Regions from separate parts of the Homo sapiens genome. Here region 2 is linked to region 1. The links come from fine-mapping of genetic effects on gene expression. A gene starts in region 1. The other region holds a variant in brackets. All regions are shown on one strand. Distances are from middle to middle. Region 1 holds the start of GINM1 (glycosylated integral membrane protein 1). Region 2 holds the start of LOC124901526 (small nucleolar RNA SNORA2/SNORA34 family).

Region 1 (2,763 bases):
TTGTCATTCTCAGAACACTTGCTCTTTAAAATATTCAAACTTTTCCCTACCATTCTACTGAAAAAAGGCTGATACTGGCCTAGGTAGGCACGACTCTACGGCAGGAATGGTGAGCATCAGCCACGTTTTAATGTTAGGATGCCTCGATTCTCCCACCTCAGCTGGCATCAGAAGCACCTGCAGGACTCTCCAACCCGGACTGCTGGGCCCCGCCCCCAGAGGCCGGGCTGAGTCCCCAGGGGATGCGGACACCGCCGATCGCGCCCCGCCGTGAGAACTTCTCCTCCAACATCCGACAAAAACATTACGTCGCGCGAGGGCCAGGTCTCTCCCTCTGCCCACCTGAGCCCGGCGGAGCCCCGCAGCCTCGGAACGGCGGACCCTCGCGATCGCAGGCCGAGCAGGCACAAGTGGCCTGGAAATGCGCGAAGTGGGCAACTTCCACACTTCCCGAGCACACAAACATTCCTTGCCCAAGCGCTGGCTCTACCCCGGGAAGGCGCCATTACGAAGGCCTGATCACCGGCAACCGCGCGCTTCGACGGCAAAGCCCCGTCAGGTCGCGCGCCGGCTTGGGCCGCCGGAGAGTCGGTGTGGAGTGGCTCGAGGCTCACTCACAGCGACGCAGCCCCAGTGGGTCCCTTTCCTCTTACCTCGGCCTCCCACGCCGCCCCCATTTCCTGGGGTGCTTCTCCCCACACCTCCTTCGGGGGCCCGGACCCCCGCCCCTGCCCGCCGGTGGGATGTGGGAAGCGTCACTGTGGACAGCCCGGGCCTCCCGGAGAGTCGGAGTCGTAAAGCGGCCAGCCAGGCCCGCCCTGCCCTACCTGTGGGGCTCCGGACAGCGGCGGCGGCTCGGGGGCGCCCGTCGTCAGCCAGCCGGAGGCGGGTAGCGCCACGAACAGCAGGAGCCGGAGGGCGAGCGACCCCGGTGGAGCGCCCTCCATCTTGGACAACCCGGGCAGAGGGCAGCCGCGGCCGGGAGGTGAGGGCGGAGCCGGCCCGCGGGCGGGACGGAGCTTCGGCGGGAGGGACGGGGAGGGGCGGGGAGAGACGGGGAGGGGCGGGACGGGCCCTCCCCTCCCCGGGCGGCCGCGGAGAGGCGCGGGGACGCTCCGAGATCCGGCTCGCCAGGGAAAGGCGTTTGCGCACGCGCAGCGCCGCGCGGCGTCGAGGGGCGGAGTGAAATCTTGGAAGGTACGGCCCCTCATTAGACCCGCCCTCAGGATTGGACAGGACTCCAACTGGAGCGATGTAAATGTCCTCGTAACCATTATTTTTAAAATTAGTATTTACACACATGCATGTGTCTGTGTGTGCACATGTACATGTACCTATACGATGAAAACAACGGTAATATTTCAGAAAACTGTTATACATTAAAAATGAAACATCGCATTTACAGGGGAAGTTTTTATTAAGTGGGTAATTCCCCACCCTTGGCTGCACGTGGGACTCTCCCGGGCAGCTTTAAAAAGTACTGGGGTCTTCCTGAACACCCCACTTTCCAGCCTGGGCTGCGGCTCGGGCCCTGGTGGTTTTTTAATTTTCTCGGGTGATTCATTGTGGGGCCAAGGTTGAGGATGCGCCATGCTTACTGTTCAGCATTCTGCCGACCCCTGGAGGCGGCGCGGGGACAGCGCTCAGCTGGAAGGAAGCCAGCGCACCTGGGCTGTCAGTGCCTTTTTGGTCAGTATCGTAACTCTAAAGTGAAAGTGTTAGACTTTTCTTCCACCTTGCAGATTTAAAAAAAAAAAAAAGTTACGGAACCCTGTAAAGCAGAGTAGCAAGAAATTCAAGCATTTTAGATTAACAGGATTGCATGTTGATTGAGAAAAACTTGGAAACTTGGCCATTCAGGCAGAATAAGAGTAATATTTAGTCTTCCTTTGAAATAAAACTTTTGACATGAAATAAAACTTTTGACATGAAAAAGGAAACAAGAATCTATTTCTCTCTTTGAGCCCCCTTTACTCCTTTGAACACCCTCCTCCCACAGGCCTGCTGACCGCCACCGCCCCCTCCCCCGGCCCCGCCCCAGAATAAATTATAAACGTTTTGGCTAAAGACTCCTTTCAACTAACTCCGGGCTTACTCTGAGATTCCCCACGCCATTGTTAAGCTACAAGTGATTTCACAGCGAAGCCCCACACACTTCTGGGTTCCATCTGCAAACTTGGCCTTTTCCTTTTTTTCCTACTGCTGGAATTAAAAATGAATTTGGAGATGGGCGTGGTCATTTGTGCCTGTACTCCCAGCTATGCAGCAAACGCAGGCAGGAGGATCGCCTGAGTCTATTAAAAAAAAAAAAAAAAAAAGGAATCTAGAAGCCGGGTGCAGTGGCTCACGCCTGTAATCCCAACACTTTAGGAGGCCGAGGCGGGTGGATCACTTGAGGTCAGGAGTTCGAGAATAGCCTGGCCAACATGGTGAAACCCCATCTCTACTAAAAATACAAAAATTATCCAGGCATACTGGCACGCACCTGTAATTCCAGCTACTAGGGAGGCTGAGGCAGGAGAATCGCTTGAACCCAGGAGGCGAAGGTTGCAGTGAGCCAAGATCGCGCCATTGCACTCCAGCCTGCGCGGTGGAGCGAGACTCCGTCTCCAAAAAAAAAAAAAAGAATCTGGAAGTCAGAAAACATGACATGTGGATCTGTATAATTTGAATTAGTAATATAAGGTTACAAAGTACGTCTATATGAAAAGATAATAGGTAAAGTTGAGGCTCTCTGTTTTCTTACAAAGCCTTTCCCATGGT
Region 2 (3,026 bases), 29 kb before region 1:
AATTGTGTAAAATAGAAAATCAGTAATTGTCTTGGATTAAATAAATTGTTGGTGCCTTTGTTCACTATATTATAAAATACGAAATGACTGTGAAATATATTGACTTGGCATATGCACAGAATACAGTCTCATTCTCAGTGAACTTATCCTAAATGTGACAGAATAGCAGTAAAAAGAAAAAAAGAATGTCTTTAATCCAGCTGGTTCAAGTAGGTTTTGTCCTAATCTAAGTATTAGTAGAGACACTTAATTAACCAGGGGCTTGACTGCGCTCGTTTCCTCCTTTCTAAAGTGAGCATACCACACAGGGTTCTGAGGATTAAAGCTAAAGTGTATACATCAAACAGCTCTATTGCTATCCCTTTGCATAAATGGTGGCTGCTATTAAGGATAAAACTTGGTAAAAGGCAAGAGCTGTTTGAATCTGAAGTTTTGTTTTTTTTTTTTAACACAAATGAGAAAAGGAGAAACCCTGAACTTACCTAGCTTTTCCTCTACATGGAGAAAATATTTAATTTTCTTGTTAACAGTTTCTCTTCTCTTCTGACTCTGTGATGCTTATTCTTCATTTTATTGAATAGTTATAATGAAATTCAAATTGCTAGCTTTAACCCCACTTTTACTTTTTCTGGGATTTTATATTCAGTATTAATTATTTAAATTAGCATCCTTTTTCATTACAGAAGATTTAACTGCTTAAAAATCAATCACAACAGGCTTTGTATTCCAATAAGTTTCTATACAATACTACATATATATGTAATATAATTAGAGAATGCTACAACAGATCAATTGAAAATTTTTCTATTAACAGGTTTTCATTTAACCAAAGTAACATTGTGTGTGTTGTTGTTGTTTTTAACTTAAAACCTAGGGATGCGTCCTTGATGGCAATGAGAAGGCGCATTGAAGGTTTGACTCCAGAGGAAATCCGAAATCTTTCCAAAGAAGAAATGCACATGCCTACAACTATGGAGGATTTCGAGATGGCTTTAAAAAAGGTTTCTAAGTCAGTGTCTGCTGCAGACATTGAAAGATACGAGAAATGGATATTTGAGTTTGGATCATGCTAAATTCTCACATGTAAACTGTGAGAAATGTGCCTTAAGTGTTTGAATATTAAATGCAGTAATTCATTGTACTGAGTGCTATATTTTTTTTAACTTTCATAATGGTAAGATTTTTTTAAAAAAACCCTTATGATTCTGAATAAAGGCAATATTTTTAAGCTGAAAATTTGTTTTACTTTAGCATTACTAGATTTCTATTATTATTTCACTGACCACAAATGTTACTTAGCTTGGAAAGCTGTCTTTTTTTTCTTTGCTTTTTCTATTTTTTTCAAGACTGTTTGTTTCTTCTAGCTGAACTGGCCATTCATACTGGGATTAGCCAACAGACCATAAGAAAGACATCAATCTTGGCTCTTGTTTGAAACCAATAGCTACAATGGCAAACCATCACGTTTCTTGATTCAGGGCCTAGGAAAGCTGACTTTATATGCACTTTTTTTTTTTTTTTTTTTTGGTATATAAACTATTTATTAACAGACAAGGCCTACAGACTTACTTCTTCTTAGACACACCCACG[A/G]TGCGGCCACGGCAGCCTGTGGTCTTGGTGTGCTGGCCTCGGACACGAAGGCCCCAGAAGTGACGCAGCCCTCTACGGGCCCGAATCTTTTTCAGTCGCTCCAGGTCTTCACAGAGCTTGTTGTCCAGACCATTGGCTAGGACCTGGCTATATTTTCCATCCTTTACATCCTTCTGTCTGTTCAAGAACCAGGCTGGCATCTTGTACTAGTGTGGATTCTGCATAATGGTGATCACATGTTCCACCTCATCCTCAGTGAGTTCTCCCGCCCTCTTGGTGAGGTCAGTGTCTGCTTTCCTCAACACCACATGAGCATATCTTCGGCCCACACCCTTAACGGCAGTGATGGCAAAGGCCATTTTCCGCCACCCATCAATGTTGGTGTTGACTACTCGGCAAAATATGCTGGGACTTTTCAGGGATCACTAGAGACATGGCGGCAGCACAAGTGGCGGCATGTAGGCCTCCTGTGGAAGAGAGCTATATGCACTTCTAACTTGGCATCTTCTCTCCTACTGTTTGCTGCTGTTACTCCTTCTAGGAAGAAAAAAATATTGGCTCTAGCTCCAGTTAACCTTACCCATTGCCTCTGGGTGCCAGCGGATAACTGAAAATCCCTGAACATTTTTACACAGTAGCTAATTAAAGCATGAGCCAAGCCCAGTATGTCTTCCTTCCCACCTGGTGTTATGGTAGCTTCCCTTCACCTCCTGGGAGAGTTTTAAAGACACATTTTACTTTGCATTTTAAAAAAATAAAATAAAATTCTTACTTGACTTTTATTTTGCCTATGTAAGAGGCTGCACTATAGGCAAATAGGCATTTCTAAACCTGTGCTGCTCATAGTACTCTAATCACTCATTAACTCATGCATACCAAACATAGCTAAAGTAAAGTATTAATGGTATGAGTTAATAAGTGAAATAAAAGTTAATGGTATAAAATTTTAGATAAGATTTCCATGTGTGACTACTTAGAAGAAAATAACTTACCATGTTATCCCAACCATAGAAAACAGAGCCTCAGGAGATTGCGGACCTTGCTGTGGTCCCAAGTCTTACTGAGAAAGACAGAAGCCTGGGTAGGGATCTTCTGACTGCAGAGCCTACACTCTCCAATAGACCATGTAGCCTCCTAAAGTTTTTTCTTCACTAGAATCTGTAAGCTTATGGTTAATAGATAAAATAAGACCATGTCATCATTTGGAGTTAGAACTGGTGCTTTCTAATGACTTAGGGAATGAGAAAGGGTGTAAAGAACAAGTGTTACTGGTTGGTAACTCAAGGATCAAATTGTAAGTTGCAGATTATTTTTTTCAGCAGTATGGAGAGAGTATTGCATAATAGAGCTCCATGCAATGTAATTAATTTAAAGTCTGGCAAAGTGAAACATCACTCCTTCATTCTACTTGTCATCCTCTCCACCCCCATCACACA

Evidence for each region.
Region 2: its variant is fine-mapped to the expression of GINM1 in blood mononuclear cells (TOPMed, PIP 0.98).

What each region holds. Positions count from the first base shown.
Region 1 is chr6:149,564,599-149,567,361 of GRCh38, reverse strand. GINM1 (glycosylated integral membrane protein 1) reads right to left here and starts at 987. Exons shown (of 8, transcript NM_138785.5): 1 at 828-987. The coding sequence starts at 947. RefSeq lists enhancers at 391-440, 1,691-1,820 and a silencer at 711-1,260.
Region 2 is chr6:149,593,083-149,596,108 of GRCh38, reverse strand. KATNA1 (katanin catalytic subunit A1) reads left to right here. Exons shown (of 11, transcript NM_007044.4): 11 at 875-1,236. The coding sequence ends at 1,073. LOC124901526 (small nucleolar RNA SNORA2/SNORA34 family) reads right to left here and starts at 1,484; the gene lies at 1,350-1,484. It also overlaps the pseudogene RPS18P9. The variant A/G (reference allele first, on the strand shown) is at 1,591.